Linked DNA regions of Homo sapiens. The protein of the gene in region 1 purifies or fractionates together with the protein of each later gene. This does not show direct contact. Each region holds a gene or a part of one and is shown in the gene's direction. Other genes may lie near its edges.

Evidence for each region. The genes of interacting proteins can lie anywhere in the genome.
Region 2: the proteins of METTL16 (region 1) and TCEA1 fractionate together in Homo sapiens (co-fractionation; one large-scale study listed by BioGRID). This does not show direct contact.

The regions. Positions count from the first base shown.
Region 1 is NC_000017.11:2,466,866-2,470,515, reverse strand, and holds part of METTL16 (RNA N(6)-adenosine-methyltransferase METTL16), read left to right. Parts: intron 1-2,639; coding exon 2,640-2,755; intron 2,756-3,276; exon of another isoform or gene 3,277-3,462; intron 3,463-3,650. UniProt on the Homo sapiens protein: RNA N6-methyltransferase that methylates adenosine residues at the N(6) position of a subset of RNAs and is involved in S-adenosyl-L-methionine homeostasis by regulating expression of MAT2A transcripts.
Region 2 is NC_000008.11:53,987,902-53,991,551, reverse strand, and holds part of TCEA1 (transcription elongation factor A protein 1), read left to right. Parts: intron 1-3,292; coding exon 3,293-3,438; intron 3,439-3,650. Other genes in the region: LYPLA1-TCEA1 readthrough, read left to right, coding at 3,293-3,438.

The DNA.
Region 1 (3,650 bases):
TTTAACTTAAAATTGACATTCATGGTACTTTTGTGGTCATTCACAGACTTGTGCATAGTGGCAAATAATTGGAGTTGCCCCAGTGTGCATGTTCCCAGCTGAGGCTCAACAAGGCAATGCTCTGCCTTCTTACTCCAGCTTCCGGACTGTGAACCAAGCGTCCTTTTATTGGTCTATTTAATACCACGTTTTGGGGTTTTTTTTTTCTTTTTCATTTTTGTGCTTTCTCTTGGTGATTTTGCTGTTTAAAATAGTCCCTAAACATAGTGCTGAAAGGCTGTCTTGTGTTCCTCAGTGCAAAAAGGCTGTGATGTGCCTTACAGAGAAAACACGTGTGTTAGACAAGCTTCCTTCAGACGCGAGCTGTAGTGCTGTTGGCCATGAGTTCAGTGTTAGTGAATCAGCGACATATATTCGATAAAGTGTCTTTGAACAGGAACACCATAAAATAAGGTTGTGTGTCTATCAGTTGATGAAAATACGAAGAGAGACTTGTAGGAACCTAACCCTGTATTTCCCCTGGGAATCAGTGGTTCAGTATTCACTCATTGACTATTTGTGGCTACTTTGTAGAATATAACTAGCGCAGATAATGAGAATTGACTATATATGAAGTAACTTAGTCACCAAGATTTTAAAAGGAAGGAAACCCTACTGTTGATTAAACTATACCATCTTTTTAATTTCAGTACATAGGCCGGGTGCGGTGGCTCACACCTGTAATCCCAGCTCTTTGGGAGGCCGAAGCAGATTGTCTGAGGTGAGGAGTTTGAGACCAGCCTGACCAACATGGTGCAACTCCATCTCTACTAAAAATACAAAAATTAGCCAGGCGTGGTGATGGGCATCTGTAATCCCAGCTACTTGGGAGGCTGAGGCAGGAGAATCGCTTGAACCCAGGAGGCAGAGGTTGCAGTTGAGTGGAGATCTCGCCGCTGCACTCTATCCTGTTCTACAGAATGAGACTGTGTCTCAAAAACAAATAATAATTTCAGTACATAGAACTGTGCTAGAAATAGTCAAATCCCCTTGTGATTAGTTACTTTTTATTTTTGTGACCATTCTGTGTATAAAGCAGTGTTAATTTTTTTTCCGTTAAAGAGATTTTATGTCTCTTTATGAAAGAAATAAGACTTTTCTTCATAGTATTGAACATATCTTTGTAAGGGGAGACATTAATATTATTAGTGCATTTGTTTTATTTCTCCATTGTTGTGTAACAAATTATTCCAAAATCTAGGAGCCTATTTATTTATTTATTTTTATTTTTTATTTTTTGAGACAGAGTCTTGCTGTGTCGCCCAGGCTGGAGTGCAATGGCACAATCTGCTGCTCACTGCAACCTCTGTCTCCCAGGTTCAAGTGATTCTCCTGCCTCAGCCTCCTGAGTAGCTGGGATTGTAGGTGCCCACCACCACACCCGTCTAAGTTTTGTAATTTTTTAGTAGGGACAGGGTTTCACCATGTTGGCCAGGCAGGTCTCGAACTCCTGACCTCAAGTGATCCACCTGCCTCGGCCTCCCGAAGTGTTGGAATTATAGGCATGAGCCACCATGCCTGGCGCTAGGAGCCTTTTAGAAAAAAAAAACACACACACACAACAACAAAAAAAAAACATTTTTTTATTAGAGACAGGGTCTCACTCTGTCATCCATGCCGGTGTGCCGTGGCGTGATCATGGCTCGCTGCAGCCTCAGCCTCCTGGGCTCAAGCAGTCTCTCACTTTAGCCTCCCAAGTAGCTGGAATTACAGGCTCGTACCACCATGCTCAGATAATTTTCTTATTTTTAAAATTTTTGTAGAGATAGGTTCTTGCTGTATTGCCCAGGTTAATCTGGAACTCTTGGTCTCAAGCAGTTCTCCCGTCTTGGCCTCCCAAAGCACTGGGATTACAGGCATGAACCATCACACTTGGCCCTAGCAACTTTAAACAATAAACATTTATCTCCTAGTTCCTATGGGTCATAAATTTTGGCATGGCTTAGTTGAGTGGTTCTAGCTGAGACCCTTTGATGCATTTGCGGTCAAGTTGTTGGCTAGAGCTACAGTCATCTGAAGGATGTATGGGTGGTAGAGATTTGCTTCCAAGATGGCTTACTCATGGCTCACTCACACGACTCTTGGAAGGAAACCCTAGTTCATAGCCATGTGGATCTCTCCATGAAGCTATTTGAGTGTCCTTAAAATGCAGCCTATACTTAAGGGGAGGGAAATTAAACTCCATCTCCTGAAGGGAGTACTGTCGAAGAGTTTGAGGACATACAGTCACACCTTACTTAACAGCAGGGATATATTCTGAGAAATGCATTGTTAGGTGATTCATCGTAGTGTGTGCTCACACACACCTGAATGGTGTAGCCTACTACACACCTGGGCCTATGTGTAATAGCCTGTGGCTCCTAGGCTATAACCTGAACAGTATGTCACTGTATTGAATACTGAAGGCCATTTTAGCACAATGGTATTTGTCTATCTAAGCATATCAAACATAGAAAAGGTACAGTAAAAATGTGGTGTTATAATCTTACGGGACCACCATCATATATGCAGTTGACCAAAGAATCATTACGCAGTGCGCGGTTATACTTTAGAACCACTGCAACATTAATATTAGTTCACAGTCCTGTTTTTTCTCCTAGTGGTGAAAGTGCCACAGAAGACACTCCTGATGGATGCTCTTAAAGAAGAATCTGAGATAATCTATGACTTTTGCATGTGCAACCCTCCCTTTTTTGCCAATCAATTGGAAGCCAAGGTAAAATGTCTTCTGCTTTAAAATAATTGAATATAGGCTGGGCGCGGTGGCTCACGCCTGTAATCCCTGCACTTTGGGAGGCCAAGGCGGGTGAATCATGAAGTCAGGAGTTTGAGACCAGCCTGGCCAACATGGTGAAACTCCGTCTCTACTAAAGATACAAAAAAATTAGCCAGGCGTCATGGCCCATGCCTGTAATCCCAGCTACTTGGGAGGTTGAGGCAGGAGAATCGCTAGAACCCGGGAGGCAGAGGTTGCAGTGGGCCAAGATTGCGCCATTGCACTCCAGCCTGGGCTACAGGGCAAGACTCTATCTCAAAAAGAAAAAAAAATCTAAATTTGCCTTATTTGCACAGATAAGAGCAAAGAAAACTTTAAAAAATTAACTTACTATTTTTTAAATTAATATATTTGAGATGAGGTCTCGCTGTGTTGCTCAAGCTGGTCTTGAACATCCGGACTCAAGCAGTCCCCCGCCCGTCAGCTCCCCTAGTAGCTGAGGCCATAGGCGTGTGCTGCAGTGCCTCGCTTTTGAAAGCTGTATACCAGTTAGGGGGCTTTTGGTTTGAAGTACTTTCGGCTCTCTGTATCCACAGGTCCTACACCTGTGGGTTCCGCATCGTGGATTCAGCCAGCCATGCATTGAAAGCATTGGGAAGCTTGCACGGTGACTCACACTTGTAATCCCAGTACTTTGGGAGGCTGAGGTGGGTGGATAGCTTGAGCTCGGAGTTCAAAACCAGCCTGGGCAACGTGGTGAAGCCCTGTCTCTACAAAAACTACAAAAACAATTAACCAGGCACTATGGCGTGTGCCTGTAGACCCAGCTACTTGGGAGGCTGAGGTGGGAGGAAGGCTTGAGCCCAGGAGGTGCAGGTTGCATTGAGCCAGGATC
Region 2 (3,650 bases), on another chromosome or scaffold:
TGGCTAATTTTGTATTTTTAGTGGAGACGGGGTTTCTCCATTTTGATCAGGCTGGTCTTGAACTCCTGACCTCAGGTGATCCGCCCGCCTTGGCCTCCCAAAGTGCTAGGATTACAGGCCTGAGCCACCGCGCCCAGCCTTGTTTTTATTTTTTTTTTTGAGACGGAGTCTTGCTCTGTTGCCCAGGCTGGAATGCAGTGGCACAATCTTGCCTCACTGCAACCTCTGTCCCCCAGGTTCAAGCGATTCTCCTGTCTCAGCCTCCCGAGTAGCTGGGATTAGAGGTGCACGTCAACACACCCAGCTAATTTTTGTACTTTTAGTAAAGATGGGGTTTCATCATGTTGACCAGGCTGGTCTCGAACTCCTGACCTCAAGTGATCCACCCACCTTGGCCTCTCAAAGTACTGGGATTACTGTCGTGAGCCACTGCGCCTGGCCTCTCGTTGTCTTTTATCAGTTTTACGTGCTTGACGTGTAGGTATAGAGCCTGTCTGCAAAAGAAAATTACTGTATGTGAAGTCTGATAAAGTAACTGATTGGTATCTATCTACACCCCATCCCCGCCCCAACACACACAGAAATACAGGAGGATTGAGAAATGAATTTTGAGGAGTCATGTAAAGAAAGATAGAAGGTTAAATCTAAGTTGCTTGTAGCTAAGCAGGATTTTATATTTTGGGTGCAAGAATTTAAGAAGAAAGTAATGTGTTTAAATGCTTAGAAAGGAAGGATCAGAATGTAGGAAGTGGGACCAGCAGTAGTGAAACTAGTGAGGAAAAGTTTCCCTCAGCCCATATGGGCAATTTCCCTTGGTTCCTGTGGAGCATTTGGCTACAGACACAGAAGCAAAAGCATTTAATCAAAGTGTTTAAGAACTGGGTTTTTGGCTGGGTGTGGTGGCTCACACCTGTAATGTCAGCACTTTTGGGAGGTCAAGGTAGGGGGATCACTTGAGCCCAGGAGTTTGAGACTAGCCTGAGCAACATAGGGAGGCCCTGTCTCTACAAGTAATAAAAAGCATTAGACAGGTGTGATGGCACATGCCTGTGGTCCCAGCTACTTGGGAGGCTGAGGCAGGAGAACCGTCTGAGTTTGGGGGTCATGGCTGCAGTAAGCCATGGTTGTTTCACTGCACTCCAGTCTGGGTGACAGCGTAAGACTGTCTCAAAAGAAAAAAAAAAAAAAAAAGAAAAGAAATGAGTTTTGGGGCCTGGCACGGTGGCTCAAGCACTTTAGGACGCCGAGGCGGAATTATCACTTGAGGTCAGGAGTTTGAGACCAGCCTGGACAACATAGACCCTTTCTCTACCAAAAAAAAAAGGTTTGTTTGTTGGATTATTTTTTTTTTTTGGAGACAGAGTCTTGCTCTTTTACCCAGGATGGAGTGCAGTGGCGTAGTCAAGGCTTTCTGCAGCCTCAACCTTTCAGTCTCAAGCGAGCCCCCTACTTCAGCCCCCAAGTAGCTAGGACCACAGGTGCATACCACCATGTTTGGCAAATTTTTAAAACTCTTTTTGTAGACCCTGGGTCTCACTATTTTGTCCGGGCTGTTCTTGAACTCCTGGGATTACAGGCATGAGCCAGCTTGCCCGGCCAAAAAATATTTTTAAAATTAACTGGGCATGGTGGCATGCACCTGTAGTCCTAGTTACTCAGGAGGCTGAGGCAGGAGGATTGCTTGAGCCCAGGAGTTCAAAGCTGCATGAGCTGTGATGGCACCACTGCACAACTCTTGCTCTCTTCACCACTGTGAAAAGTCTTGCTCAGTTGCTCAGGCTGGAGTCTTAAAAAAAAAAATAATAAATGGGTTTTTAAGCATTAGTTTGCTCATTCATTTATCACTGAGAGGCATTATGCTACATAATGAAAATACAAAGAAAAGTAAATCCTAGTTTTTGCTCTTGAGAAACTCAGTCTGATAGAGAAGAAAATGTATGAAAAGTTATCATATACAAACCTGTGTGAATCAATATTTTGGGAATACAGGGGGAAATCAGTGAAGGCTTCAAAAAGGAACTGACTAAATTTAAAAGGTACTAATGTCCGTCTGACCCACAGGCACCTGTTTGTGAAGTTTAACAGTGGTTATGTTTTGGAGAGAAGGCAAGGGAGTATGTTCTTGTAGCATTGCAGCAAACCACATCTATGGATGGTGGATGATTTAATCAGTCTTTGAAAAGGGTTATGGCAGCTGTTTTCAATGTGATAAAGCTTAATTGTAATCATGAAGATTATTTTGGAAAGAACCCATTTTAGTGATAATCCAACGTAAGAAGCTACTCAGAAGCAATTGAAAGGATTAGGTTGACTGGAAAATTATAAAACTGCCTAAATGTTCATATCGAGGTGATGTTTCTGGGGAGAAACACACCATTTTGTAGCCTCATGACTCATCAGTACACATGGTATTTGTCTCACTGGGGAACTCACTGTCTAAGTGGAACAAGGTTTTCCTTTTTCTTTTTGTTCTTTTTTTTTTTTGAGGTGGAGTCTCGCTGTGTCACCCAGGCTGGAGTGCAGTGGTGCAGTCTTGGCTCACTGAAACCTCTGCCTCTGGGTTCAAGCGATTTTCCTGCCTCAGCCTCCCAAGTAGCTGGGATTACAGGCGTGTGCCACCACGCCCAGCTAATTTTTGTATTTTTAATAGAGACGGGGTTTCACCATTTTGCCCAGGCTGGATTTGAACTCTACTGGCCTCAAGTGATCTGCCTCTCTTGGCCTCCCAAAGTGCTGGGATTACAGCTGTGAGCCACCATGCCCAGTGAAACAGAGTTTTTCAAGCATTCTCTCTCTCTATCTCTAGTTTTGGTTGAAAGCTGTCATTCTCTGGTGTGAACCTGGGAGGTGGAGCTTGCAGTGAGCCGAGATTGCACCATTGCCCTCCAGCCTGGGTGACAGAGCAAGACTCCGTCTCAAAAAAGAAAGCTGTCATTCTCTGGTCCCATCCCTTCATCCCTCTCCTTATACCAAGATCATTGCTTTTCATTTATTGTACTGAGCTATAATGGGTATTTTCTCTATTAAAAATATTGCTTAATATTTAAAATGAGAATCAAAGATAAAATGTTTAGTTCAAAAAAAAGGCATACTTGTCACTTTACTAAATTGTAAAATTTTTAACTTCTTTTTAATCTGTATGCAGGCAATTTTTTTTCCATCACATAAAGGTCACTGAGATACTGTGTCATTTATTTAGACCCCAAATTTTGTTTTTACAGCATGATAGTAGTATTGTTACTTTGAAAGGATTGTTCTTGATTTCTTTTTGGGGTGTTTGTGCGTATTTCAGTACTTCCAGCGGCAATGTAAGCAACAGAAAGGATGAGACAAATGCTCGAGATACTTATGTTTCATCCTTTCCTCGGGCACCAAGCACTTCTGATTCTGTGCGGTTGAAGTGTAGGGAGATGCTTGCTGCAGCTCTTCGAACAGGGGGTAAGTCCAGTGCATGTTATTTCTCAGTCCTTTGGTCACCACCCACAACCACTGCCATCTCCAACTCCATATTGCTGTTTGATGAGTGTTACCCTGTGGATAGCCCACCCACTGCTGCTTAGCTTGGGGAGAAGTTGTTGCTGATACGGGTCTGTTAAGGGGGAGAGGAGGAGGAATACTGGGGCATTTGCTTATTACTATGTAATTGTAAG